7 linked regions of the Homo sapiens genome follow. The protein of the gene in region 6 purifies or fractionates together with the protein of the main gene of each other region. This does not show direct contact. Each region holds a gene or a part of one and is shown on either strand. Other genes may lie near its edges.

The links.
Region 1: the proteins of SLC2A10 (region 6) and TM9SF3 purify together in Homo sapiens (affinity purification with mass spectrometry; one large-scale study listed by BioGRID and IntAct). This does not show direct contact.
Region 2: the proteins of SLC2A10 (region 6) and DHCR24 purify together in Homo sapiens (affinity purification with mass spectrometry; one large-scale study listed by BioGRID and IntAct). This does not show direct contact.
Region 3: the proteins of SLC2A10 (region 6) and RNF122 purify together in Homo sapiens (affinity purification with mass spectrometry; one large-scale study listed by BioGRID and IntAct). This does not show direct contact.
Region 4: the proteins of SLC2A10 (region 6) and GALNT11 purify together in Homo sapiens (affinity purification with mass spectrometry; one large-scale study listed by BioGRID and IntAct). This does not show direct contact.
Region 5: the proteins of SLC2A10 (region 6) and JAG2 purify together in Homo sapiens (affinity purification with mass spectrometry; one large-scale study listed by BioGRID and IntAct). This does not show direct contact.
Region 7: the proteins of SLC2A10 (region 6) and ENPEP purify together in Homo sapiens (affinity purification with mass spectrometry; one large-scale study listed by BioGRID and IntAct). This does not show direct contact.

Annotation. Positions count from the first base shown.
Region 1 is NC_000010.11:96,517,169-96,521,290, forward strand, and holds the end of TM9SF3 (transmembrane 9 superfamily member 3 precursor), read right to left. Parts: 3' UTR 942-4,122; downstream 1-941.
Region 2 is NC_000001.11:54,870,196-54,873,695, forward strand, and holds part of DHCR24 (delta(24)-sterol reductase precursor), read right to left. Parts: intron 1,419-3,500; coding exon 1,155-1,418; intron 1-1,154. UniProt on the Homo sapiens protein: Catalyzes the reduction of the delta-24 double bond of sterol intermediates during cholesterol biosynthesis.
Region 3 is NC_000008.11:33,560,316-33,564,534, forward strand, and holds part of RNF122 (RING finger protein 122), read right to left. Parts: intron 1-4,219. UniProt on the Homo sapiens protein: May induce necrosis and apoptosis. May play a role in cell viability.
Region 4 is NC_000007.14:152,023,502-152,028,475, forward strand, and holds the start of GALNT11 (polypeptide N-acetylgalactosaminyltransferase 11), read left to right. Parts: upstream 1-2,172; 5' UTR 2,173-2,331; coding exon of another isoform or gene 2,332-2,383; intron 2,384-3,468; exon of another isoform or gene 3,469-3,533; intron 3,534-4,095; exon of another isoform or gene 4,096-4,217; intron 4,218-4,974. UniProt on the Homo sapiens protein: Polypeptide N-acetylgalactosaminyltransferase that catalyzes the initiation of protein O-linked glycosylation and is involved in left/right asymmetry by mediating O-glycosylation of NOTCH1.
Region 5 is NC_000014.9:105,154,883-105,159,101, reverse strand, and holds part of JAG2 (protein jagged-2 isoform a precursor), read left to right. Parts: intron 1-1,338; coding exon 1,339-1,396; intron 1,397-3,112; coding exon 3,113-3,364; intron 3,365-3,479; coding exon 3,480-3,540; intron 3,541-4,219. UniProt on the Homo sapiens protein: Putative Notch ligand involved in the mediation of Notch signaling. Involved in limb development.
Region 6 is NC_000020.11:46,722,908-46,727,126, reverse strand, and holds part of SLC2A10 (solute carrier family 2, facilitated glucose transporter member 10), read right to left. Parts: intron 2,087-4,219; coding exon 803-2,086; intron 313-802; coding exon of another isoform or gene 264-312; coding exon 141-263; intron 1-140. UniProt on the Homo sapiens protein: Facilitative glucose transporter required for the development of the cardiovascular system.
Region 7 is NC_000004.12:110,478,768-110,482,986, reverse strand, and holds part of ENPEP (glutamyl aminopeptidase), read right to left. Parts: intron 1-4,219. UniProt on the Homo sapiens protein: Regulates central hypertension through its calcium-modulated preference to cleave N-terminal acidic residues from peptides such as angiotensin II.

The sequences.
Region 1 (4,122 bases), on a different chromosome or scaffold from region 6:
TGAGGCACCTAATAAAACTAGGGGAAAAGAACCAAGGAGGTTGGTCAGGATTTTTAAAAACTAGTCAGAAACGGAAAAACAAAACATACAAATAGACATGGAGAAATTAACCACTGATTTCAATGTGGCACAATAAAAATAATCTCTTCCATTCGTATAGAACACTAATTTTCAATGTGACTTCTACATATATTACCTGCCTCCCAGGCTAGAGAGGGTGACACCCCCATTTTACAGTTACAATAGTCAAGACAACAGGGCCCTGAATCTTGATGACTTCTGGGCTAAACATAAGAGCACCTTTAGCTGTGGTTTCTTATCCATAAAACACAGCTATCTACTCTACCAGCTTCACAGGATGGTTGTGAAGGAACAAGTGAAACTGCTTTGAAAAAGTAGTAAATGCTAAACAAATGCAAAGAATCATCAATCAGAGGATGGCAGGCAAATAGATGGTAAAGTCTGAGTGTAAGAGTCAGAATAGGTATACAAAAAAGTCAAAAGAATGGCAATAAAAGAAAAATCATTCTTAAGAAAGACCAATCTTATTCACTGGACCATTCTCTCAACTTTACTGTATATTACAGTTCACTTTTGAAATACAAATTTAAACCTTAAATTTTAAATACATCATTCCAGGGGTTAGCGGACTATGGCCTGTGGGCCATTTTTGTGAAGTTATACTGGAACATAGCCATGCTCATTAGTTTATGTAGTCTACTATGGCTGCTTTGGTGCTACAACGATAGTTTCAACAGAGACTGCATAGCCCTCAAAGCTGAAAGTATTTACTATCTAGACCTTCACAGAAAAAGTCTGCAGACCCCTGCTTTAATTGTGGAAAACTATTACTAAGTTATTCATTTGCCTGTCAATAATGGGTTATCCCTTATGCTTGGTTCATGTTTCAAAAAGGAAAGAAATAAGGAATCCAAAGGAAGTACATTTAACTTTTTATTACTTTTTAAAAATCCAAATTCAGATAAATTAACACACTAGGTTAGAACCTCAATTGTATTTGATACATTATATACTGGATTTCTATTACTAAAAAGCCAGTTGGAATATGGCCTATACGAACCAAAGAGTGTATACAAAATGGAAGTGGTCATCAGGCAATAATTGTTTCCTTGGAACTCTGCACCGACTGTCCATGCTCTGTGGGGACTTACACATTCAAGTTTGACAGTTGAAAAACCAACTGGAGCTGCTTTTCCAAGAATGTTCTGTTGTCCTTCAAATAGAATTCCATGTTATTTCTTTCTTGCCTTAAGCTCTTATATCTTTCAAATGACCTAAGCTGATGAACTGGAGTAAACACAAACTGCTGCAGTTATCAATTAGCAAGCCTAGTTCACCAATACTTCAAAATAAACAGACTTCACAAGTTTATTTCCATTCCTAACAGTGGAATAATAACTTAATTTTGTTTACTTTTGTCTTTGTAGATTTCTGTCTGCAGCTCCAGTAAGAATGCCAAATCAGATGGCTTTTAGGAAATGCTCATAGGAGAGAACTAGAGTTATTCCTCACACTGAATTTAAGTCTTACCAGATTTCTGCAGGTTCATATGTTAACGTTCTGATCTAGCCTACCTGTAAGTCTAGTTTATTTCTGTACACACTTCCAAATACTCTTCATAAATTTTCACTTCTGACTGAAATATAACACCTTGATTGATAGTTTCATAACTATAGAATTTTAGTGAAGATATAAAACATTAATGAATACTTGTGTTTTAATACATCACTACTCCTATTTATTACATGTTCCAATAAACCAATAGAATGAAGCACTAAGACACGGTGAAATCTAAACTTAAAACCCAGATGGAACTGCCATATAGATTACAAATGGGTCTCCCCACCACAGAATTCATATACAAAAGCCCTTCGGTATGTAGCTTTTCCTGAACAAATACATTAATACACTTTTTGTTTTTTACATTTGTAAAAATTCAAGGTTTTAATAACATTTCTTTGCAAGACATTTGGTATAAGGTGGTTAATAAATATTAGGAAACAAACACTGTACCAAAATGGATATGACTTGTGAATAAACCCTAAATAAAGTGGCTTTTGGAAGAACTGGATTTTGCAGCAACCAACTTTATAAAGAGGTCCATCCACTCTCAATGGAAAACACCCAAGCATACCATTCACTAGGTTCGGATATCACCATAATATAATGAATTCTAAGAGTATGGGGTTTGATTTATGGGCAACCCCAGTACAATCTAGGAGCCCAACATGATGAAAAATACTAAAAGAATGCTTCACCATCCCTCAGGCCATTACATTTCCACCTTATCCTACTCTTGTATTAGGATATATGTATACAAATGTCAACTACTAATGTAGTTAAATTTCAGGAGAAGCATGCTTAAAGATACACAAGGAATGTTTAGCCTTAGTTTTTGATAGTATTATCCAAAGTGTGAGTTGAAAGAAATTAAGCAAATAATGTTAACAAACGAAAGACAGATACACAGCATTAGTGGGGGTATAAAAACCTCACCTTTCAATTAACTTGAATAATGTTCTATTTTCTATTCTACAACTGAGCGCTAGGGAGCTAAACTATTTGTGAATTACATCTTCTTTAAGAAGACACACACACACGCACACACATACATACACTTATTCAACCCCTCTATGCAGCCAAAAACCAATACAAGTCCTTTTCTAAAAGACTTTAAAGGTGATTAATATTCATTTAATGCTCTTAATGTATTTGGAAATCAGAAAATTATTTTTCACCACAGATTCCAAAGAACTTCAAATAGAGCTCAATTTAGTAGAAAGAATTGGTGTACCTGAAAGCATTTAACCCACACATTTTCAATAAACCCTACATCTTACCTGCAAGATTCATATCATGAGAAACAAATTTCATTTTATTAAGACAAAACCTTACTGTCCAATTTATACTCCCATCAGACAGACTATGTATTGGTATGTTAAAAGTACTTTTGAATAAAAGTGGTGAGAAAGAAACCAAAAAAGTACTTTATATATAGTTAAAAGGTTACATAATATAGGCAACTAAATATTAACTTTTAGTTTCTTTTTTATAAGATCTTAAAGGCAAGTAAGAAGGAAGAGAAAATGGAAGTACCAATAAATTATATTTAATATACCATTTTGGCTTCAGAAGAGGATTTACCTACAGCTTCTGATCAAATTTGTTGGATCATATCAATCATACTTAAGTGGTAAGAAATCATACTTTTCACCTTTTAAAGGACTTACATGTCACAATATAGGATGTAGAGTCCATCAATAGATAGGTACATATTTTGTAATGAAAACATCTTGTGTAACTATTAATTGCATGATTTTCATATTAAGGTTTAAATACAGGTGTTTTGAGTCTTTCTAAAAATAACAATATAAAGTATTGTTTTAGGTGGTCATTTGCATAGCAAACTATTAAACTAGAAACTCAGTGGTTCTAGGAAAACTTCATATTATGAATAGTTCCAGAAAAATGTATTCAAATCACTTCTCTTACAAAACTGTAACCTTTATTTGTTGATCCAACAGTACGTTAACCACTTTTACCCCATCCCCACTTTACACGGTACACCAACCTGAACAGATTTTGTGCCACAATTTCATTCAAAGGGTTTGTCATTCACTTTATGATTGTGCTGGATAATCTAGATGTAAGCAAGTCTGGAGATTTTAAAATACGGGTCCCCTGTATGAGAGTAGCATAGTTTATAGCATACTTTTAAAAATGGCATTCGGTAATTTTGCCTTCTGGACAGAAAGATATCTTCAAATTGCAAACACATCTATTTCCACAAAACAATTTGGTCAGGAAATTTTATTTGAACATTCTAAAGCAATAATGCTTTAGATGTTACTTAAGTGTCCCAGACAGGATTAACAAAATTAAGTGTCTCTAAATTACAAATTTGGCTCCTGTAGGAGTCTCAGAAAATAAACAGAAGAAAACAACCCCCCTCCCAAAAGAAGTATGACACACACATTTTGAAGAAACCCCAATGTTTCATGCAATGGTAGGCAAGATGTAAAAGCCCACCCAAATCACACATTTCTACACCAATCATCATAAGAAAAAAGTACTCTGTAGTCGATCTGTACATCCAAATGC
Region 2 (3,500 bases), on a different chromosome or scaffold from region 6:
TGGGCTACAGAGACCCTGTCTCAAAAAAAAAAACAATAAGAAAATAAATAAATAAAAATAAATAGGTCTCGAAGAATGCACACAAAACTGTTATACGTAAGTGGTTACACCCTGGCGTAAAGAGATGCACTTTAACTTTTTCTTTATATATTTCAGCATTGTTACATTACTTTTATAATTTAAAAACTTTCAAAAAAATCCATACAGAGAAAGAGGAAATAAATACAGTTGTCTCTCAGTATCCATGGGGGATTTGTTCCAGGATCCCCCAAAATCCATGAATGCTCAAGTCCCTTACATAAAATGATTTAGTATTTGCATATAACCCTATGCACATCCTCCTGTATACTTTAAATCATCTCTAGATTTCTCACAATACTTAATACAATGTAAATGCTATGTAACAGTTAAGGAATAATGACAAGAAAAAAAGTCTGTCCATGTTCATTTCAGATGAAACCATCCGTTTTTTGGCCCCTGAACGCTTTCAATCTGCAGTTGGTTGAATCCACTGTTGTGGAACCCACAGATACAAGGGGCCAACTGTGTACCAAACACATTAGCAACACTGGCTTTGGGACATATTTACAGGTGGAGTCTTTTCTTTCCTTTTTACTTGTTTGTACCTTCCAAGTCTCTTACAATAAGCACAAATCCTTTCCAAGTCTCTTACAATAAGCACAAATCCTTTCTAAATGGAGAAAAAACTGCTAATAAAAATTGCATGGTATATGTGGAAGGAATGTCAATCTAGATTCCAAGGCATCAAATCGATTACTCGAATCTTGTGGAAGTTTACATTACCTCTTTTAAGTGTTGGGATTACAGGTGTGAGCCACTGTGCCCAGCCTACATTACCTCTTGAAGACTCAGTTTCCTCATCTATAAAATGGGTTTGCTATAAGGACCAAAGATTACATCCACTAAGAGACAAGCACATCCCAGGCAGGTGGTAGGGGCAGAGTAGATGAAAGCTTCCATCACTGTCTAATACATTTCTGATGATAGATCCTGTTGCCTGTACCCCAGGTGGGTTGACCCAGGCAGCAGCCTTGAAGAGGTGGCTGCCAGGGTCAGGATACGGGAACCGGCTCAGTCCTAGCACACTCATGCCTCCCCAGTCTTGGTCAGCAGCAGCTGACACCCTGGCTTACCTTGCTGGGCTCTGCCTCATCTGTCATGACCCCTGTCATAATGACAGCCTCATCCAGGGAGTAGAGCAGCCCTTCCACGAAGTGGTTCTCCTGCCGCTGGGACTCGTGGGTGAACTTGGCACAGATAGCCTCCAGGCCCCGCACTGGCTCGAAACGCAGCTTGACGTACTTCTTGGCAGGGATGATGCGGATCTCAGCGGCCACCAGGAAACCCAGCGTCCCACAGGACCAGGGTACGGCATAGAACAGGTCTGAGTTTTCGGACTGTGAGACAGAATTGATGTGTTGTGAGCTGAAACCTTGGGCCCCACATTGTGGCATGCAGTCAGTGGGGGAGCAAAGCCTGGGAGAGTCCCTATTCTCTCACTCTCTTGTATAAACCCAAACAATGAGCTTTACAAACTGTGCTTGCTGGGCTTTAGTTTCCTCCCTGCAGCTTCGACATGACATGGAACCTAATACTGCCCTCTGTCTCAGGGACCCTCACTGAGAGAGCATCCTCCTTCTCCCATCTAGGTACAGCCCCTGACCCAGAGGCTATTCAGGAAAAAGCTGGGACTGGCACTGCTGCCCAACGACCCACAATGGCAGGGGCATTGCACAAGGGCAGGAGTCCAAGGCCAGGCCTTGACACCCTTTAGTGGGTGTCAGGCAGTGTAGCTGGGGAACATTAAAATGCCTCCCTTCTGAACCATTACTAAAATTTACAAGGCCTTTCCCAGTCCATCGGCTTGTGGGATCCACCCCCGACAGAGCCCAGGGAGAGCGCTAGCACCCCCTTATGACAAGTAAAGAAACTGAGTCTCTCAGAGCTGCCATGACTCACCAAAGTCTTCCCAGAAAAGTCAGCTGCAGCAATGCCAGGGCTCAGGCAAGACCACCTAACTCCCCGGCCAGCGTTTTTCCTACAACACCTCATCTGCTTCCATAAATCAATGTCCAACCTCATCATTTTATTGTTTTGACATTTGTCTTGGACACAGACAACTGACTTTTCCTTGGCCATTCTGATTGGGATTCTTCAGTTCTAGTAAAGAAAGCTCTTTTGAAAAAGTCCAGCCATGTCTTGCCTTTACTAAGAGGACAGCCCTGTGCAGTCTCCACAAAACCTGAATGCTCTTGGTGGTGGGCACAGTGAATGCAGCAGGGCAGGAGAGCTGGAGCAAGGAGGCTCTGCAGCAGGCTGGCAGAAACCTCAGGAACAGCAGCACTACGCTCACCAATTCCCCCTTGGGCCCACAGCTAATCACATTCTCCTGGCCATGGCAGTGAAGATGACACACTTGCTGCATGCTGAGCTCTATGCAAGGAGCTTCCCATACAGGACCTACTTATTCCTCTCAACCACATATTTGTCAGTGAGGAACCTGGGCCTCAGAGAAGGGAAAGAATTCACAAATGTCAGTCTCCTTTCTCTGCCGATAATAAATAGGTCAAAAGACAGGGCCCCGCAAGCGTTCAGGAAAGCAGGATGAATTGATGTGAATCTTGCTAGGGGTATCTCTCATCCAAGACCAGTGCTGCCAAGCTGGGAGTCTTTCCTTGGGCCCTCTTCTGTGAAGTGAAGGAGTCGGGTGGCTCCCTGAAATACCCACTTCAACAGGACCAACTGTCCCTCCCATCCCAGGGGTCCCTCACACCTGCCAGGACAGATCCAAGGTTATTTAAAGTGTCACTCCTATCCCACCCCTTAGGTAAAACGCTTTAAATGTTTGAATCCCAGTTTGGGTGGTAGAAGTGTTTCTTATTTTTCTAAAACATCCTCTCTAATCACTTTTACTTACACGATTACGTGCTACATAAAGACGTTGCAGTCAACAATGGGCCACAGATAAAATGGTGGTCTCATAAGATTATAATGGAGCTGAAAAAGTCCTGTTGCCTAGTGGTATCACTGCTATCACAGCTATCCTAATGTCATACTCATGTGTTTATGGTAACACTGGTGTAAGCAAACCTACTGTACTGCCAGTTGTATAAAAGTATAGCACATATAATTATGTACACTACATAATACTTGATAATGATAAATGACTCTGTCATTGGTTTATGTATTCACTACACTACACTTTTAATTGTTATTTTAGAGTGTACTCTTTCTGCTTATTAAAAAAAAGTTAACTGTAAACAGCATCAGGCAGGTCCTTCAGGAGGTATTCCAGAAGAAGGCATTGTTGTCAGAGATGACAGCTCCATGTGTGTTATTGCCCCTGAAGACTTTCCAGTGGGACAAGATGCGGAAGTGGAAGCGTTATTGATAATCTTGACTCTGTGTAGGCCTAAACTAACATGCGTTTATGTCTTGACCTTTTTTCTTTGAGACAGGGTCTTGCTCTGTCACCCAGG
Region 3 (4,219 bases), on a different chromosome or scaffold from region 6:
GTGGGTACGTAACCAGGTTCTGAGCAAAGAAACAAAGAGATCTGCTGGAAAAGGAACTTTGCTTGTTTGTTTTTGGAGACAAGGTCTCACTCTGTCCCTGCAGGCTGGAGTGCAGTGGTGTAAACATGCCTCACTGTATCCTCCAACTCCTGGCCTCAATGAGATCCTCCTGCCTCAGCCCCACAAAGGGCTGGGACTATAAGCATGAGCCACTGCACCCGGCAGGTTCTTTTTTTCCTTTTTTTTTTTGTGAGGGGGGTCATGTCTCTCAGAGACACCTAGAATTGTGATAGCCAAGCTGTAGCTGGAAAGAGCAGCTCAGTAGAAAGTCAAATGCTTGACCAGGCATGGTGTCTCACGCCTGTAATCCCAGTACTTTGGGAGCCCGAGACGGCTGGATGGCTTGAGGTCAGGAGTTTGAGATCAGCCTGGCCAACATGGTGAAACTCCATCTCTATTAAAAAATTAGCTGGGCATGGTTGCACACATCTGTAATCCCAGCTACTCGGGAGGTTGAGGTAGGAGAATCACTTGAACCTGGGAGGTGGAGGTTGCAAGTGAGCTGACATCGTGCCACTGTATTCCAGCCTTGGAGACAGAGCAAGACTCCATCTAAAAACAAAAACAAAAACAAAACAAAAAAAGTCAAATGGCTGAGGATGGCAGAAGGGAAAGGGAAAGAGGGGAGTCCTTGATGAAAGGGAGAGCTGGAATTTGCTGTTCACCTGCTGCATCCTAAGCACATTCTCATGCTATCAATTTAATCTTTGTACTGCCACAGTAAAGGTTACTTCCCCCCGCCAATGGGAAAAAGACTCAATCATTTAGTAACTCGCCCACAGTCAAACAGCTAGGAAAGCCCAGCTCCAAAGGGTTCTCTGTACCCAGGCCTTGGGTTCTAGGCACTTTCCTGACATCTTGGTTAGGAGCCAGGATGCATTCACATGCCACAGAATTCTATACGCTAATAACCAGTGCTACTACAACTCAGCAGAAGGTGGCTTGAAAGACTGGAAGTCAACTTGGACATCAGTCCTCCTCATCCCTTACTGATGACTATATAACGAGCCTCCATTCAAACCTCTTTCAGGCTGTGCCCAATTCTACTGCCACAGCCCTATTGTAAACACTCATCACCTCCTACTGTTTCCTAGTTGATGTCATCCCTGTTTCTAGTTCCTTCTCTCATTTACCCCACACGCCTGACACATCCTCCTAGTTGCCTTTTTTTTTTTAATTTTTTTTTAGACAGTCTTGCATTGTGTCACCCAGGCTAGAGTGCAGTGGCACTATCTTGGCTCACTGCAACCTCTGCCTCCTGGGTTCAAGTGATCCTTCTACCTCAGCTTCCTGAGTAGCTAGGACTATAGGTGTACACCACCACGCCCAGCTAGTTTTTGTATTTCTAGTACAGACTGGGTTTCACCATGTTGGACAGTCTGGTCTTGAACACCTGACCTCAAGTGATCCACCCGTCTTGGCCTCCCAAGAAAGTGCTGGGATTACAGCGCATAAGCCACTGTGCCCCGCCCTCTCCTTGTCGTTTTGATCTTGTATTTTACAAACTCATGACTGGCTTCAAGTCCTCCTAAAACATTCACCCTGTCCCTTCACAACTTCCTACTTAAAAGTTCTCCAATACTACTCCATGTGGGCCAGTCTTTTTCACTATTTCTTGTACAATCTTGTCCTTGCCTGCTTCCCTGTCTTTGTTTACACAGCTTTCCCTGCCTGAAACGCTCTCTCTGAGGCCCATCAAGCCTGTGATAGTCCAATAACCTCTCTTCCTTCAATTCTACAGCACTCATGACCTCCATCATTTGTTCGGCCCCTACTTACTCAGTTAACTGTCTTACATCGTTCCTAGCATTAAGTTACTTTAACTCAAATGTGCATTAAGCATTGATTATATGGTAAGTACTATTAAAAGAAAGCACAGGCCGGGTGTGGTGGCTCACACCTGTAACTCCAGCATTTTGGGAGGCTGAGGCAGGAGGACCGCTTGAGGCCAGAAGTTCAAGACTAACCTAGGCAACATAGTAAGACCCCCACCTCTACAAATAATAATAATGATAAATTAGCTGGGTGTGGTGGTAAGTGCCTATAATCCCAGCTACTCAGGAGGCTGAGATGGGAGAATCACTTGAGTCTGAGAGGTCGAGGCTGCAGTGAGCCACAATTGCACCACTGCACTTAGCATGGGCCAGAGTAAGACCTTGTCTCAAAAAAAAAAAAGAAAAAGAAAAAAAAAAGATTAGATGATCTGATGATCTTACCACATAGGAAAAAAAGACACAAAGATTTTCACCATAGAAAGTGAGGCTCAGGCCAGGTGCAGTGACTCACGCCTGTAATCCCAACACTTTGGGAGGCTGAGGTAGGCAGATCACCTGAGGTCGGGAGTTCAAGACCAACCTGGCTAACATGGTGAAACACCATCTCTACTAAAATACAAAAATTAGCTGGGTTTGGTGTCTGGCACCCGTAATCCCAGCTACTCGGGAGGCTGAGGCAGGAGAATTACTTCGACCTGGGAAGCGGAGGTTGCAGTGAGCGGAGATCACACCACTGCACTCTAGCCTGGGCAACAGAGAGAGACTCCCGTCTCTAAACAAAACAAAACAAAAAACCTGGGCATGGTGGTGCACACCTGTAGTCCCAGTTACTCGGGAGGCTGGAGCAGGAGAATTGGTTGAACCCGGGAGGCAGAGGCTGCAGTGAGCTGAGGCAGAGGCTGCAGTGAGCTGAGATGGCGCCACTGTGCCCCAGCCTGGGCGACAGAGTGAGACTCAAGAAAAAAAGAAAAAAAAAAAAAAGCCTGAACCCTCCTAGGTTTGCTGACTCCAACTTGGACTTTTGTATATTCTCCAGTGTCCGGCCTAGCCTAGAGTTTGGCTTGTTCTCAATAACTAGTTAACAGATAAATAATTCCCCATTTTCTTAAAATAACCTGGTCCCCTTGGCAAAACCTCCCACTTCAAAGCAGCAGGACTGATGTTTGGGAAAATTGCCCAGAAACTGCCCTCCGCTAATGGATCACCAGTCAACCAGCAAGTATTATTGAGGGCTTGCTTTATGCACTGACCTACACATTGTGGGAAAACAGAAAGTAGAAGTTCTTGTTGTGAAAGACTTTTTGATTAAGTTGAAATGAAAGAAATAATTAGCTACTAAACTTTGCTGTGCCCAACAGGAAGTTCCTTGTGTCTAGGCTCTAGTAGGGGTTAGAGAGAAAGTGCTTTTCACCACCAGTCCCCACCCAAATATTTACTTTCTGTGGGTCAAAGAAGAACAATTTTCCATGAGGACATCATGGCAGACTGGCTAGAGTGACAAACTTCAGTCTATGCTGGAAAAGGGGCTCAGGACTTCCCTTCCAACAAGACCTGGTGCTCCCAGCTGTTTTCTCACCTCCTTCCCCCGCACTATTTGATGTTACAAGAGGGTCTAACCCCCCGTTTCCTTAGTTCTTCCAGGCACCTTTTATGAGCTGAAACCTCCTTTGGTTTCCAGTTCTGGGAACTTGCAGAACCTGGTCAGAGCTATTACAGAGGATATCTGTGCACTCCACAAGCACGATGGTCCCCGCAAGTCCTCTGATCAGTTTATCCCCACCAACTTATCCTGCCTGATAAAGGCTTCCCCTTTATCTCCCACTGATTGAATCAGTGAGCTTGGTATTTCACGTGATAAAGAGGTCGGTGGGAAGAGCATAGTCAAGAGGAGATGGTTCATTTGCTTGTGTTACTATTAAAGAAATGGCAAAATAGTCTACTGGTCAAAAGCTGACACTGTAGTAAGTTTTTCTTTAAAACTGTATAAGGACAGAGAATACCAGCCCCAGGAAAGAGGGGCTCCAGGTAGTTTCTGAAGGGGTGAGGGAAGGGTTGCTTCTTCACAGGAGTCAAAGGACAGGATCTCTCAGTCACTTTTCTAAGAAGTGCAAAGAGGGCCAGACAAGGTGGCTCCTGCAGGTAATTCCAGCATTTTGAGAGTCCGTGGTGGGAGGACTGCTTGAGCCCAGGAGTTCAAGACCAGCATAGGCAATGTAGTGAAACCCTATCCCCAAAAAGTAGATTAATTAATTAATTAATTAAAAATTAGCCAGTAGCCAGGTATGGTTGCACACACCTGTGGTTCCAGCTATGCTGGGAGGCTGAGGCAGGAGGATCCCTTCAGCCTGGGAGTTGGAGGCCGCAGTGAGCCCTGATCGTGCCAC
Region 4 (4,974 bases), on a different chromosome or scaffold from region 6:
CAGATGAAGACAAGCCTCTCACATATTGCACAGGATATACTTAAACCACAAAATTATTCTTAATCTGGAATTCAAATTTCAGGCCATCCTGTATTTCATCTGGCAACTGTATCCAAGGACAAACAATAACACGGCCCTTACATGATCCTAATCAGCGTGGCCTCAAAGATTGTGTTTAACCAGAATGATACGCTGAAAAGAGCATTTTAGTGTCATTCTGTATGATAGTGAAAAATTGGAGCTAACCCAAATCCTCAATTACGAGAATAATGGTTAAGTAATTATTGCACATTAATCAGGTAGAATAGTATTTAAAGTAATAAACAGATGCATCTCATACTCATCAGGTTGGCAAATATTTAAATATCTGATACTATCAAGGGTCAGGAGAAGATGAAACAATGGAAATTTACATGCCCTGATTAATCCTAGAGCATGATTTCAAATGTTAATTTGTGTATAAATCACCTGGAAATCTTGGTAAAAATGCAGATTTTAATTAAGTAGGTGGAGCACAAGACTCCCCATTTCTAACACACTCCAGGTGACGTTGGTGTCGCTTGTTGCTGGACCACCATTTGAGTAGTGAGGCCCTAAAGGTCTGGTCTTCAAACTCTTTTGCTTGAGTATATACTAAAATAATAAGGTTTAAATACAAGAACTTAGTATCCCCTTATACATATTTAAGGTGATATTTAACATTTTTCATTACTAGTTTAGGTAGTTGGAAGGATTACTTTCTGGAAACATATTTATGTATTTAAATAAACTTGTAATACACTTTTAAATATACCTAGTAGACTTTGCCCTAGTTTGCCTGCCACTGCTGTGAATAGTTTCTGAGGGGGATCCCAGCAGGATTGATCCCCAATGACGCTTATTTGATATTATACTATGTATATTTTACATGAGCTGCAACCATTGAAGGAAACTGGGCAAAGATACCTGTGTGCTGTCTGCACTGCCCTTGCAAGAGAAACCAGTACCTGAAATATCTGTCAATCTCCAATCAAGACACAAGCATGGTAGAAGGAGTCAAAAGCATTCAACTTGGCACCCAGCAGCAGTTCTCTTTGGCTGAGGGAAGTGGCCACAAGACTCAGCTGGGGGCCATCAGCGGCCTACACACCCAACAACTGGAGAAATGAGTCCTCAGTCCTTAAGGGGAAACCTGGGTGGTACAACATGGCATCCCCTACACCCTGACAACCCCATGGGGTATCTGTGGAAGAGGGGCTGGGGAATGTGGTTAGCTCAGTTCAGCTCAAGAAGGCCACTACTTTGGTTCAGGTGGTGCTCTTTAATTTATAGTAGCTGTAGAAGTTCCTCCATTGCTACGCGTGTACCCCATCAGACTTTAATTGTGAAGCAATGAGTTCTTTAAAAAAGTTCAAAAATATTCTTAACCAAGTGGGATTTATTTCAGAAATGCAAAGAAGATTAGTATTAAGATATTCTTCAATATAACTTGGCATTATTGGCCAAAGATGAATGCCCACACCATTTTTCTTAAAAATTGCCAATTCCCCTTTTATGGTATTTGTATACATTGCACTATTATCACCAAGGTATGAGTGTTTTTTTCACCACTTCTCTCTTTACACCTTAATCTACATTTTCTTCTATCACAAGTGGCGTTTAACTTCTTTTAATATGTTTAAGGGCATTTGTCTTTTTTTTTTTTTTTCACTTATGGGGTCTCGCTGTATTGCCCAGGCTGGAGGGCAGTGGCTATTCACAGGCGCGATCCCGCTACCGATCAGCACAGGAGTTTTGCCCTGCCCGGTTTCCGAGCTGGGCCAGTTCCCCACTCCTTGGGGAACCTGGTGGTCCCTGCTCCCGGGAGGTCACCACACCGATGCGGAACACAGATGCGTGTCGCCGCGCAATGGGCACAGCGCATACAGCGCAGAGCTCCCGGGCTCAAGCGCTGCTCCCGCCTCAGCCTCCGGAGTAGCCGGGGCCACAGGCAGGGCATTTGTCATTAATGGGGTCTTTTGAGACCGCGGGTGACAGACAACAGGAGCCAGGCCACGCGCGGCGCCTCTGCGCGAACGCTAGGGAGGACTCAGCGCGCGGCGGCCGGTGACGTCAGGGCAGCGAGAGGTTTCGTCACCGCGGCGCGGGGGCGGGGCCGCCTGTCACGCGGCGCCGGCGGACGCGCGGCGCTGGGCGGAGGCAGCGGCTCGGGGACTGGGCGAGGGCCCTGGGCCTGAGGAGGCGCGGCCGCCACTGCGCCCAGCGCCTGCGCGACGCCTGGCTGCTGGGCCCCGGGGCAGTTCAGCCCGCGCCGCTCCTGCGGGTCGGACTGGGGCTGTGGCGGGAGAGAAGATGCCGCAGCCCGAGTCCCAGAAGGCGGCGATCCTGGGCTGCGGGCAAGGCGGTGAGTACCCTCTAGGCGGCGGCCTCCCGGCGTCCCTCAGCACCTCGAGAGCTGCGGCGGCGGCGGCGCGCGGGGCCTGGGCAGGCTGGGGGCGGCGGCGGGGCAGCGCCTGGCTCCCCGCGGGTCCTGGGCTCCCGCACGCCCCCTGGGCGAGGCTCGTGTCTCCGGGAGACGCCGCTGCCCCCGCGCCTCCCCCAGCGTCTCCTGAGGCTTGTTCGCGGGCGTGGGGGCGAGGACCAGGGCGCTGGCCTCGTTTTCGCGTATTTAGGACGGAGGCACACCTGATCCTGCAGCCTCCCCCAGCATTTCCTAAAATGAAGTCCAGATCAGTATTGTCCACTTTTTAAAATTAAAAGTGCCCAGAAATAGAATAGTTCACACATACACAAAACTAGGGAGAATAGTGTGGAAGGAAATTTAATCTCGGGACCCCAAATCACTAAGCCAAAGTCAAGCTGGGAGCTGCGTCAGGCAAACCTGCCCCTAAGTTTTGTTCCTAAGACAGCTGCAAAGATAAAAAGCCACACAGCTCCCTCACCCTTTGGCCAGGAGGAAATTCGCTGTGGACCTCCACATCTTTACCCTGAAACAGTTGTGTGGAATTGCACCCTGGCAGTGTAAATTGACAGCTTGTCTTCGCAGGTGAGGAACAGGGACAGAACTCAAGTCATCCTTCTGCTCACCTGAGACAGATGCATGTCTGACGGCTTCCTCTGCCCTGTATTTATGTAAAAATGCAGATTCACTGAGCCAGACTAAGGCACAAGTGGCTATTCCTCTGCCTGCCCCATGGCGTAAATTGTGTGTTCAGTAAAAGGCAGAGCAGAGGCTCAAAAGAATGTAGCCGTTTGTCTCTCATCTTACCCATGACCTGGAAGCCGCCACTTTGAGTTGTCCCACCTTTCCTGCCCGAACTAGTCTATACCTGTATTTGATTGAAGACTCATGTTCCCCTACAATGTATAAAACTAGGCTGTGCCCCCACCACCTTGGGTACATGCTCTCAGGATCTCTTGAGGGCAGTGTCATGGGCCATAGACACTCATTTCGCTCAGAATAAATCTCTTTAAAAATTTTTTTATTAGCCGGGTGCGGTGGCTCACGCCTGTAATCCCAGCACTTTGGAAGGCCAAGGCGAGCGGATCACGAGGTCAGGAGATCAAGACCATCCTGGCTAACACGGTGAAATCCCGTCTCTACTAAAAATACAAAAAATAAGCCGGGCGTGGTGGCAGGCGCCTGTAATCCCAGCTACTTGGGAGGCTGAGGCAGGAGAATGGCGTGAATCGAGGAGGCAGAGCTTGCAGTGAGCCGAGATCACGCCACTGCACTCCATCCTGGGTGACAGAGCGAGACTCCATCTCAAAAAAATTTATTTTTAATTTTTGTGGGTACATAGTAGGCATATGTATTTATAGGTACATGAGATATTTGATATGGCATAGAATGCATAATCACATCAGGATAAGCAGGGTATCCATCTTCTCAAGCATTTATCCTTTGTTAGTGCTACAAACAACCTGCAAGGCTCTTGTATTGGTTTGAACCCCGATGACGCACCAACAACCCCCACGACATGAGGCGGTGTGGAGCAACATGCTGTTTTAATAAGCGCCTGGGTGCAGACGGGTTTATGCCTAAATGGCATCAGCCCCAAGTGAGGAATGGGTTTTATAATAGCATCAGCCCCAAGTGAGGAAGGGGTTTTATAGTCCTCTGTAAGCAGGAAGTGTCCCAGTCTGACGTGGCTGCTGCGTAAATGTGTCCGGAATTGGTTCCTTCCAGTGGATTCTTGGTCTCGCTGACTTCAAGAATGAAGCCACGGACTGTCGCGGTGAGTGTTACAGTTCTTAAAGATGGTATGTCGAGAGTTTGTTCCTTCTGATGTTCAGATGTGTCCAGAGTTTCTTCCTTCTGGTGGGTTCGTGGTCTTGCTGACTTCAGGGATGAAGCCGCAGACCTTTGCAGTGAGTGTTACAGCTCTTAAAGGTGGCACGTCTGGAGTTGTTTTTTCCTCCCAGTGGGTTCATGAGCTCACTGACTTCAGGAGTCAACCTGCAGACCTTCGCAGTGAGTGTTACAGGTCTTAAAGGTGGCATGTCGAGAGTTGTTTGTTCCTCGCAGTAGGTTTGTGGTCTCACTGACTTCAGGAGTGAAGCCACAGACCTTCACAGTCAGTGTTACAGCTCATAAAGTTAGTGCAGACCCAAAGAGTGAGCAGCAGCAAGATTTATTGCAAAGAATGAAAGAGCAAAGCTTCCACAGCATGGAAGGGGACCCGAGCAGGTTGCCGCTGCTGGCTCCAGTGGCCTGCTTTTATTCCCTTATTTGGCCCCACCCACATCCTGCTGATTGGTCCATTTTACAGAGAGCTGATTAGTCCATTTTAGAGTGCTGATTGCTCTGTTTTACAGAGTGCTGATTGGTCTGTTTTACAGAGTGCTAATTGGTCGGTTTTTACAGAGTGCTGATTGGTGCGTTTACAAACCTTTAGCTAGACACAGAGCGCTGATTGGTGCATTTACAATCCTTTAGCTAGACAGAAAAGTTCTCCAAGTCTGCTACCCAGTTAGCTAGTCACAGAGCACTGA
Region 5 (4,219 bases), on a different chromosome or scaffold from region 6:
GTGGCTGGTAGCACGTTGGTTAGGGGAGGGGCTGGACGTGGGAGTGCAGTCTTCTGAGACATCTTGGGAGGCCAGGCCTGTCCTTAGCTGGATGAGGCCGAGGCACTGGGACGTGCGTGGGGTGGGCGGCGGGTGAGGACCAGGGAAGGGCTGGCAGGCGTGGGGTTGGGCCTTGCTGGGGAAGTGTGGTTTTCCCCAGCTTAGCCAGGCCTTGGGGCTGGTTGGATGGGGTGTGCTGAGGGATGGAGTGAGCCTGGCCTGCCTGGACACTGCCCAACGCAGCATCCCCCCGGGGTGGGAAGCCAGCAGGCCCTGAGGTGACTCAGCCCCAGCCCCCTCCTCTGGGCCCCACCTGGAAGGAGCCAGGGCTGGGCTCAGGGGTCAAGAGCACACCAGGGGTAGACTGGGGGGTTCCTGGGCAGTGAGGGCTGAGAGGCTGTGGAATGTGGGTACCCAGTGCTGGGTAGTACAGGGCATGTCCCGGGGGTCCCACCTGTCTGAGCATGTCTGTGAGTGACGGTCTCCGTGGGCTGCACTAGGCGGAGCAGGGGGCCAGCCCTGTGGTCTCTTTGCTTGGCTGACAGCATCGCCTGTCGCCATGGCTGGGGTACAAGGGCCAGGTGGCCCGGGGGCAGAGGGGGCATAGTGGCCATGGTCTGAGGCTGTGCTGGGCAGTCCCAGGACCTCTTGGCCTCAGTTTCCCCAACTGTACCGCAAGGGCCCCTCCTGCCACCTGTTCTGTGTGAGGGTGGAGGTAGGTGTGGGTTTGCCTGTGTGCTGTATGCCTGCAGGACCTGAGCTCCGGCCTGTTGGGGCCTCTGGCTGGGCGCCCTGTACTTGGCCACCCCGTGCACTTGGTGGAGGCCGCCAGCGTGGTGATGGGGCCCCACGTTCTCCCCCGTGGTCACCCCCAGTGAGGCACCAAGGGGCGTTCCACAGGAAACGCTCGGGTCCCGGCTGCCCATGGGGCCCCTGTCTGTGGCCACTCCAGCCAGGCTGCCCTTTGCCCACCTCTCCCCCCGGTCGCTCTTCCTGTGCTCCGTGCTGACTTGAGCCAGCTCAGGGCAGGCTGGGCCTCTGGCACCCCAACGGTAGGGAGCCCAGGCCCCTGAGCCCGCGTGGCCTGGAGGGGCAGTCTCCCTCCCTTGAGCTGGGTCATTTTTGGGTCTGCAGAGGATGTGGCCTGAGGATGAGGAGGGTGGTGGGTCCCTGGCTGGGGAGGAAGGGCCAGAGCCTGGCAGACCCAGGGGCAGCGTCTGAGCCCTGGGCCTTGTCCCACCCTGAACGAGGCAGGCAGGTGTGGCCTCAGGTACCTGACCCGCCTCCCCATGTCTGCAGCGCTCCTTTACCCTCATCGTGGAGGCCTGGGACTGGGACAACGATACCACCCCGAATGGTGAGTGAGCCCTGGGCCAGGTGGCAGCTCCTCTCAGCTTCAGCGTGCCTGTGGCAGGGCCCAGCTCCTCTGTCTGCTTGGGACAAAGCCTTGCTTTACCCTGAGGATCATGTGTGCTGTTTCCCTTTTTGCTTTGGCTGCCAGGAAGCTCTGCCACGTTTGGGACTTGCAGAGCTGTGCATGCACTCTCTTCCCCAGTCCTGGCTTTGCCTATGTTGTTCTCCTCTTGGGTGTGCTCTTTTGGGGCCCATGGCAGTGACTTAGTGGAGGGGACACCCTTGAGTGTGTCTCTGGCTTTGTGGCCCCCTCTGCTTGTCTGTACTGGAGCATGGAGCCTTGGTGGCCCTCTCCCTGAGGCAGGGGCTCTGCAGGGCCCTGCAGGGGTAACGGGATGACTTCCATGGGTGAATGCAGAAGCACCCACAGGCCAAGGGAGCAGCTCGTGTGAAGGTCTGGGCAGGAGCGGGCTGGCTGTGCAGGGGGAGCAGCCGGGGCTGGGCTCAGATCATGGAGGCTGGCAAGCCACTGAGAGGACACGGGCTCCGCCTGGCAAGCTGTGGCTGCCTTATGGAGGGTGGGCTGTGGGGCCAGGACACAGACCGAGGAGGAGCTGCCACGTGAATCTGGGCGTGTCAGGGTGACTTGGACCAGGGGCAGTCTGGGGGTGAGAGGGGCTCTCAGAAGTGGAGGCATGGGGTTGGCCAATGGGTTGGAGGAGGGAGAGCGGGGCCAGGGCATCCTGGCTGCCAGCAGAGTGGAGGGGCTGTTTTCAGGGCAGGGACGGCGGTGGGGGTGCCCAGGTGGGGAGCAGCAGTTGTGGGGACCCCAGCGGCTCAGGGCAGGGGTGTTTCCTGAGGGGGTGGCAGAGAGACAGGTGGGCTGAGTCCCAAGCAAGGTCGTCAGGGCTCTTGACAACGTGAGCCTGGAGAGGCTGGGGCGGCCGGGACGCCCCTTGGGGAGTGGGCCAGCACAGTGTCCTCCCAGGCCTTGGCCCGAGGCGGGAGAGGTGGGGTCTGGAGGACCCGTTCACCTTTTATTGTGCAAAACGTCGAGCCTGTGCCTAAGCGCAGGGACCGGCATCACGGACTTTGCATACCAGCGCCAGCAGCTGTGGTGCCCCTGGCCCCTGGTCTCCTGGTGGCTTACTTAAAGTGAGGCTTAGACAGCGGGTCACGGGACCTATGCCTGTCTTGGGGGCCTGAGGGGAGGCTTGTCTTAAGGTGGGGACGGTAGTGGTGTTTGGCACTTCTGGGAGCAAGTCACAGCGCAGGAGAGGGGAGGGCAACTGAGCACCATGTCCGTGCTGTCGAGGGCTGGACACGGCGCAGGTGGGTGCAGGTGTTGGAGCAGGGCTGCAGGTGGGTGGGCACAGGTGTGGGACGTGAGACTCACGCCCTGGCAGCAGCCGTGCCTTCTCTGTGGAGCCTGTGGTCTCAGCAGCCCTCCCTGCAGGGCCCCTAGCCCCTAGCCGGGCCCCCCGACCCTCTGCGTTTAGGGTGGGAGCGGGGCGCAGGCTTGGTGGCGGGAGGGAGAGGCCTCTCGGGGCCCTGAGCTTTCTGTAGCAGCCTGGCCGGGGGCCCTGCCCTCCGTGTGCTGCTGCCTGCTGTGCCCCGGCCTTGCAGCAGCCGCAGGCTTCTGCCCCGTCCCCGTTGTTCCTGGAGGACCCCTGGCCGGGCTGGTTTCTCTGGCCTGTGCTGACTCTGCCGCCTCCCCAAGAGGAGCTGCTGATCGAGCGAGTGTCGCATGCCGGCATGATCAACCCGGAGGACCGCTGGAAGAGCCTGCACTTCAGCGGCCACGTGGCGCACCTGGAGCTGCAGATCCGCGTGCGCTGCGACGAGAACTACTACAGCGCCACTTGCAACAAGTTCTGCCGGCCCCGCAACGACTTTTTCGGCCACTACACCTGCGACCAGTACGGCAACAAGGCCTGCATGGACGGCTGGATGGGCAAGGAGTGCAAGGAAGGTGAGGGGGCCGCTGGGCTGCGTGGAGGGCAGGGAGGGCCTCGGGCAGGGCCCCGGGCACAGGCCTTGCGGCCAGGCTGGCTGCAGCTGTGCCTCTCGCTCCTCTCTGTTCGCAGCTGTGTGTAAACAAGGGTGTAATTTGCTCCACGGGGGATGCACCGTGCCTGGGGAGTGCAGGTGAGTGTGCCGCCGGCCCGTCTTTGCCCTCCCAACCTTTGCCCTCACGTCCTCACTGGCACACACAGCCTTGCTGTCAGGAGTCGCCCGGAGCTGGCTGGAGGTTGGGCACACAGCTGTGAGAGCCGGGCCCTGAGCTCGGGAGGCTCCTTAGTGCAGTAGGTGCGTGTCTGAGCATGGGATGTGTCTGATGGCGGCAGCCATGTGAGGACAGTGAGGAGAGACTGGGGAGGCTGGCTGGACAGTCACGTCACCGAGGGGCAGAGACCCGGAGGCTGCAAGCCACCCAGAGATGGGGCATGGGCAGAGGACACGGTAACCCTGCCCATGGGGAGGGGGTGGGCGGCGAGCGGCCGGCAAGTGACACCAGCAGGCGAGGGGCGGCAGAGCAGACCAGTGGTGGGAGCTGAGGCCTGCAGGACCAGGGACAGAGGAAGGGGCTGCTGGCAGGTTTGTAGCTGGGCAAGGTGGGTGGAAGGGCTGTGGTAGCTGTTGAGTGGGGAAGCACCAGACGGGAGGCTGTGAGGGGGAGGCCGCTGTGGGGCATGTGGGGGTGGTGGGGGAGGGGCCAGCGGGATGGGGAGGGGGTCAGTGGAAGGGGGAGAGGCGCACGGGTCCTGCAGACATCCTGGGGTGGAGCCCAGGGGTTTGTGGATGGATTTGATCAAGCAGGAAGGGT
Region 6 (4,219 bases):
TGTCGTCTTGGACATTTGATGATGTTTCTGCACAGAATAATAGTTCTGCAGCTAATACATAGGAAAATCCAAAAATTTCTGCTTTAGAGTAGGGAGCTTGGGCCACAGAAAAAAAACGGACTTGTCTGGGAAGGACTCACCAATGAGATCGAGGAAGGAGAGGCTGATGAAGAGGTTGGCCGCCCAGTTGAAGCTGTTGCAGAAGGCGAAGGCTCTTCCTCGTATCTCCACAGGGTAGATCTCGCTGAGGACAAGCCAGGTCACTAGGGTGGGAGAGCAGGAGGGCTCCTGGGCTGTGGTGGGACCTGGGGCCTGGCACCATCAGGTCAAACATGCAGCCTCTCAACAATGGGATTTTCTAGTGTCAGGCTCCTGATACTAAACTCCCACTCCCATTCTGCTATAAGAATTACAGTAGAGTCTCAGTTTGCTGAAGACTGAGAGGTTTTCTGAGACATGAGACTTTCAATGCCGAGATGGGAACAGTCTTGGACGAACTGGGATGATTGGTTTTCACGCTATTCATTAAATTCCTTCCAGTTGTGAGCTATCCGGGCTTTAAGGGACCTGAAGCTCAAATGACTTGGGGAGGCTTTTAAGGAATACAAATTACAAACATAAAATTAGGCACTGGCCCTGGGAGGAGCAACTGCAGGTAAGTGAGGGGCCCTGAGGCTTCATGGTCAACCCACCTCTAGTGCCCCACTGACACCCTGCCAGGTCATCAGGGTGGGAAGTCCCCAAACTTCCCCCTAGGAGGGGTAGAAGTCTCCAGAGTCACCTGCAAGAAAACTCCACTTACCTGGCCCAAACCCAAAGGAGAAGGCACTGACAAAGACCATCAGGCACAGCAGTGCGGTCCAGCGCAGCAGTGCATGCCCCCGAGCGGGCAGAGGGGGCCCAGGGAGGGCAGAGCTCAGGGCCAGCCGAGGAGGGGCTGAGGGGTCTCCAGATCTGGGATGGGGCTTGGTTTTCTTAGCAGTGGACAAGATTGGCTCCCTTTGGTCCTCATTGGTCCTTGGAATGGGAGGTAGAGAGGAGTCCTGCAGCAGGCCAGAGTCTCCAGGGAGGCCTGTCTGCCCGGTGGCATTGGGCACAGCCAGACAGCTTGGGCCTGAGTCCATGGGCACGGCAAAGCTGACGAGGCCTATGCCACTGACGGACAGGGCCATGAGGGCACAGCCAGCTAGCAACAGAGCCCTGCGGCCTGCACGGTCCACCAGCCCCATGGCGGTCAGGGTAGCTGCCACCTTCACTGCGCCAAGCCCCACAGAGGCCAGCACGGCTGAGGATCCCCCATGGAAACCAACGGAGCTGAAGATGGTGGAGGCATAGCACAGCACGTTGGGCTGCCCTGTTAGTTGCTGGAAGAGCACCAGCCCCAGGCCCACTGTGGTCCGGCCTCGCATGTTATCGCGTGCCCTGAAGAGGTCCAGAAAGGAGTACCGTGGCCTCCCCGGGCCCAGCTTGGGGGCCTCACCTCCCTGGAGTGGGATGAGGTCCTTGTGTGTTGCAGTCTCATCTGTACCAGCAGGGAGGAAGAGGAGGCTGAGGGATTGCAGGACAGCAGGTGCAGTGGCCCAGCCGAACATGTGCCTCCATCCCCAGGGGGTACCAGCCAGTGCATAGTTGAGGGCATAGGAGAGCAGGATGCCCACGGTGATGCCTGCCTCATAGAGGGACACCAGCACTCCCCGCTGCCGTGGCCCCACCAGCTCTGACACGTAGATACAGCAAGCCATGGAGGAGAGGGAAATGGCGAAGCCAACCACAGCGCGGCCCAGGACCAGCCAGGCCAGGGAACCAGCCAGGCCCAGGGTCAGGCTGCCTGCCAGCAGCACCAAGTTGCTCCCGAGGATGGCTTGCTTCCTGCCATAGCAGTCAATGAGGAAGCCACCAACCAGGGAGGCGAGGAGAGCCCCCAGGAGCAGGCTGCCCACCAGGAACTCCTGCTCCAAGCAGCTTAGCCCAAAGTCAAGCTGCAGTGGCAGCAGGGCACCTGATATGACTGCCAGTTCATAACCAAAGGTCAGGCCACCCAGCAAAGACACAGAGGCACACAAAGGCAGGACAGGTGGGGAGTGGCCTAAAAAACAAAAGTGAGAGGGACAGAGTTAGAATGGTTCCTTGTCATACCATCCATCCATTCAACCTTCCCTCCATCTGTCAACACCTTCATTTATCCATCCATCTACTCCATCTATTCAACCATCCATTCAAACCATCCATCCATCCATCCATCCATCCATCCGTCCATCCATCCACTCCATCAATTCAACCATCCATCCATCCATCCATCCATCCATCCATCCATCCATCCTTCCATCTGTCCATCCATCCACTCCATCAATTCAACCATCCATCCATTCATCCTCCATCCATCTACTCCATCTGTTCAACCACCCATTCAACCATTCACTGATCCATCTATCCATCTATCCATCCACTCCAACCATCCATCCATCCATCCATCCATCCATCCATCCATCCATCCATCCAACCACCATCCATCTACACCATCTGTTCAATCATCCATTTAACTATCCATCCATTCTTCCATCCACTCCATCTATTCAACCACCCATCCATCCATCTATGCATCCTCCATCCATTCATCTACTTCATCCATCCAAATATTCATCCATCTGCATGTCCATTTATCTATACCTTAATTCACCCAACCATCCATCAATTTGTTGATCAGTCTATCTACAAATCCATCCATTCATCCACCCATCTCTGTATTTCATCCCTTTGTATACTCATCCACACATCAGTCCATCCATCCATCCATCTATCCATCCATCTAAATTTATTTATCTGGCATTTACAACATGCCAGGAAGTGCTCTTAGGGCTGGAATACAGATGTGTTGTCCAGGATCTAAAGTTCTAGAAGAAATAGGAAGATGATAAATAAGTATATAATTTCAGATAGTGAAGATGTCATAAAAAATGAAGCAGGGAAGGAGAATTAAGGTTGATGGAGTAGTACTATTTTAAGGCCTCTCTGAAGAGCAAAAATTTGAGCAGAGATTTGAGTGACATGAAAGTCCCAGGAAAATCTGGGAGAAGAACATCCTAGACAGAGTGAACACAAAGTACAGAGGCCCTGAGGTAGGACAGTTCTTGGTGTTTGAACAACTATGGATATTAATGGTTAGTACTTATATGGCCCTTACTAAATGCCAGAATCTGTTTTAAGAGCTTTATATGTATTTTCTCATTTAATTGTTACAGCTACCCTATAACATATCATCCTCCAAAGTGCAGAGAAGTTAAGAAACTTTCTCATGGTCACATAACAAGTAAGTTGTAGAGATGATGTGGCTAAAGTGAGGACCTTTAATCACTGAGGTAATCAGACAGGAGGCCAGAGGCTGAAGCCCAGTGAGTGAGAGTGATGGGAGATGATGAGGCAGGAGAAATAGGCAGGGGCCAGATCATGTGGGGCTTTGCAAGTCAAGAGGACAATGAGGAATGTCATTCTCAGTGGTTGGAAGCCTTTGCTGGCTTCAGCCAGGAATGAGGTGATCTACTTTTATTTTTCATTTTTTATGAGTCCCAACAGGAAACAAATCGGTCATCTATTTTTAATTTTTAAAATATTGCTCTTGCTGTTGTATGGAGATGCTAAATGAGGTGAATGTGGCCCAATCAATGTCCATTCACCCCTTTTTCTTTGGTATCAGGACTACATCCAGCTAAAAGACTACATTTCCCACCTTTCCCACAGCTATTGGTGGCTACTAAGATGGAAGAGGGAGTTTTTTTGGTGGGACATTGAAAAAAGCTCTCCAAGAAGAGGGTGAGGAGGGAAACAGCTGGCTAGATCTTTTTTGCCCTTTTTTCTAGCTCCCTTACCTCTTGCCTGGAATGCAGGTGTGATGACTGGAGCTTCAGCAGCCATCTTGGAACATGATGGGGGGTAACCATGAGGATGCAAGCTACACACCGACATAGTAGGATGGAAATATAGAAGAAGAATGGGTCCCTGATGGCAGTAAGCCTACCATACCAACAATGGATTGTCAATCTCCATATATTTTTATGTGCTAAGAAGAAAATCCCAACAATTTCTGACTTAGTGAAACTATGCTATTTCCAGTTTCTATTCCTAGCAGTGAAACCAAAGAGCAAGAGCAAACCCAGGTTGGAAGGCTAGTACAAGGGTCCAGGTAAGAGTGCTAACGAAAACTAAGAAGAAATGCTATATAGCA
Region 7 (4,219 bases), on a different chromosome or scaffold from region 6:
CCCAGGCTAGAGTGCAGTGGCGCGATCTTGACTCACTACAACCTCCGCCTCCTGGGTTCAAGCAATTCTCCTGCCTCAGCCTCCAGAGTAGCTGGGATTACAGGCATGTGCCACTACCCCCGGCTAATTTTTGTATTTTTAGTAGAGGCGGGGTTTCACCATGTTAGCCAGGCTGCTCTCGAACTCCTGACCTCAGGTGATCCGCCCACCTCAGCCTTCCAAAATGCTGGGATTACAGGCATGAGCCACCTCGCCCAACCTAAAATCTATTCTTTATTGACATTTTTATTGACAATGGGATAATAGCTCAGCATACTAATCTAAGAATATAATGAACAAACTGACATACGACAAAAATTTCAAGATCAAAACTACATGTGCTTGAGTATACATACACATCCATGCAGGTAAGAATACATTACACACACACACTTAATGATGATTATCTCACCGATGTTTCCACTCAACTCCTAAATCTTTATTACAAGCTCTAACCTTGTGCTTCAGACATACTTATGCAAGTGCCTACTAGTCATCTCTTCCTAGATGTCTGACAAGCCATCAACACATCTGACACTGAACTTACGACCTTCCCTTCTAACCTGGCTACTTCCCACCTATTTCCAATATCAATTGAGGTGAAGGCTAGCTGGGGTATCCTAGACCCATAACTTTAACTCACCCTTCCTCATAGTCAAGCAATCGTCAAATCTTGACTACTTTACCTCCAAACTATTTTCTCTACTGTGCCCTCTCTTCTCTATCCTGAAATCACGTTTCCTATCTGATCCTTATCTTCTCTTTCCTGGATTGCTGCAATATCTTTCATATATCCAAGTGGATGGTTGAGTTAACTCTTTCTTTTGCCATCTGTATCCAAAAAGTCATGGGGTAATTTCTCCTTCATAATGCCTATCATGGCTATTTTTCCTTTTCCTCCGTAAGGGTTTTCCTCAGTGATATCTAGCTAGCCTGTTCATATAAACTTCCCCTACAAACTAATTTTCTTGTCCCCACTCTGCTTTTCTGACTTGGTGCCTTTCCTTTTTGCCTGCTTTTAGTTTCTCACTTGTCTCTGCTGCTGAACTCCCACCAGAACATCAAAATTCAGCTTAAATCCTACTAGCGCTACGAAGAACACCTTGGCAGCCCAAACTAGAAATGATCTCTAAAATTCCGGTTGTACTTCCTGTCAATTCCACTGTTTCTCTGCCTTTAAACTACGGAGATTGCATTCCTAAGTACAAATATATATACATACACATATAAACTCTTCCCTTCCACAGGGTAGGCAGAAAAGGAACCAAGGGAAAATTTTCACCCTAAGTGGGAATGTAGAGATGTTATTGGTGGAAGTTAGGCTCGTTTATGGGAGAGAAGCTGTGGTAATGCAATGTGTCCCAGCATTTGCCAGAGGATACTAGTCATGTGAGAGCTTATATGATAATATTTTCATTTATTCCATTTGAGAATATTTGAGTGCTCACTGTGTGCCAAACAGTAAAGGAAAGACATATATCCCTACTCTTAGGAACCCCACAGAAGAATCCATAGTCACAGAGAGTTGGGAAACTACATAGAGGACATTATCATATAAAAGCCTCTGAAAACCCTGTAATCCCAGCTACTCGGAAAGCTGAGGTGGGAGGATCACTTGAACTCATGAACTCATGAGTTCAAGCCAGGAGTTCTACCCCAGCCTGGATCTCATCTCTTTAAAAAAAAAAAAGTCTCTGAAAAGTTCCATAATTAAAAACAAAATCCAAAACAGATCATTTTGTATTTAGTATTATTGCACAAACTGATTTAGCCACAGAATCTCTCCCCTGCTATTTTTCTGGTAATATCTACTAAGATCCCCATGCAACTAGAATTCTGCAGTACATACTTTGGGAAGTGCTAAGTAAGCATAATCCAAATGCTGACAAGGAAAAGCCAAATCTTGGAGAGAAGAAAATATATACTTTGGAGTTTGAGTAGAGGGAAACTCTTTTAGGGAAGGGAACAGCTGGAAATCCTACGTAACACGGTGAGAAAATGGGAAGAAGGAGGGTGTGGTCAGAGAAACATTCCAAAGGTTCCAATCCTTCCAAGTGGTTTTCCTCAGACCCTGAAGAATAGACTAGCGAGTAGGAAGAGGTAGATCGATAAAGGAAAAGCGACTGGATGTTTCTCAAACTTTCTCCTTCCACGCCCCACTACAACTCTGTCCCCAGAAAGACAATGTGGAATTCTAAATTTTGTCCCCTTTCTTCCCCATGTCTCAATCTTGAGAGAAAGCAACTTGGGTAGCTGTGAAGTTTGTGAAGCTCAAAGTCCTGATTGTATTTGCAGAAATTAAGTAATTTTGGTTACTACTGAGTGCAATCCTGTTTAGTTTGCATTGTGGTTGTCACATTAATATCCCTAACTACTAATACTCAATCCTGGAGTTACATTTTACGTTAAGGTCAGAAAATATAATTTTGACTCCGTACTTCAAATGTATTACTATGATGACGTTTAAAATGATACAAACGTCACATATGACGAAGCTCACTCTATAGTATGAAAGAAAGGCACTGCCCCCAGTGAACTCCCTCTGGTGGCCCTTATATGGAGCCTGTGGATGAGAACTCCTAGAGGCTGCATTGCCAAAATATTACTCACAGGCTAGAAAAAAAAGCATGATGCACTTTTCTCATATGCTTGAAATATTTCAGACAAGGATAACAAAAAGTATTCCATTTAGCCTAAATGAGGTTATTGAGCTGACGCCAGATCTGTTCCAAAACCATGTGTGTGCAGTACAGAACTGGCAGCATCTTTTGTAATGTGAGAGCTTCAACTGCTCCCAATGAAACATACAAACTTGGGAACACCAATCCTCAGTGAGAACTGAACTGAGCATCAGCCTTCCTCACCGATGTTGCCATCATTTCGTAATCTCCAATCAAAAGTTAAGTCAACTGAGCTTCAGAAGGGCAGCTCTCTGGTATATATTTTATGGCAAAATTAACTGGTACACTAAAATAACTCAAAGAGTGAGAGTATTTGTGTATATAATGCTTTTTTTAGACTTATAAAGTACATAATAGAAACTTATTAATGGAGACTACATAGTTCCAATTTTTGGCCTTCCTAATATGTGTAAAATTTTATTTTATTATTTTATAAATATTTTGATGGTTTTATTCAGATAAAATTTCTCTTGTCTTTATGATCTAAGAAGCAGTTTTAAAGTTTTAGCAATAATATTTAAAAAGTCTTGACTCGCTTTCACTTCAATGAATTTTTAGAATCTCTTTAAGGTGGATATTCTTCAGAATATTGCCCTTCCCTCGACCATTGGCAAACACTTTTAAAAAATCATTGTATTGTTAGTAAGGCTCAGAGGAATAGTCGCTTTCATACATTGTTGGTGGAAATGGAGTTTGGGACATATTTTTTGGAAGTCAGTTTGGAGACACACACACATGCATACACATGTTCATGCATATATATGTATATGCATGTACACATATATACACAGACATACATGCATTTATACACAGGTAGTTTTGGCCCATCTTCTAGGAATTTTCTTAAATATTAGAAAATGTCCATAAATAGTTATTTACAAGGATAGTCAATATAAGGATGCGCCTTCTTCTAGATCCTTATAGGTGAAAAAATAGGAGCAACTTAAATACTCATATTTAATGGAAAAGTGAATCAACTACATTGTAGTCATACAATGGCCTACCATGTATCCATCGAATCATTTGTGGAAGAACATCAAATGACATCTTAAAGCATTGATGCTATATTGGAAAAGCATGTTACACATTACTATGTATAATATAATTATGCCACAGCTATCTATGTCCAGAAAAGTACTAAAAGAGTCTCTGCCTAAATGTTAACAATGGCTATACTTGGGTAAAGAATTTATGGATGAATTTATGTTTTCCTATAATTTTCTCTGTTTTCTGAGTTTCCTTCAATAAACGTGTATTATTTATGTTATCAATAAACAAAGTAACTATTACAATATCTTGGTATATTTGTACACTTTGACCCAGCAATTCTATTTTTAGGACTATATCCTAACCTAAGGAAATAAACAGATGCACATACAAAGAGGTATTTAGAAGTATGTTATTTGATGATTTGTTTATAATAATAAAATACTAGAAACAACTCAAATGCTCAACAATATAATTTGTTTTAAAAAATTACAATGTATTCAAACAATGGA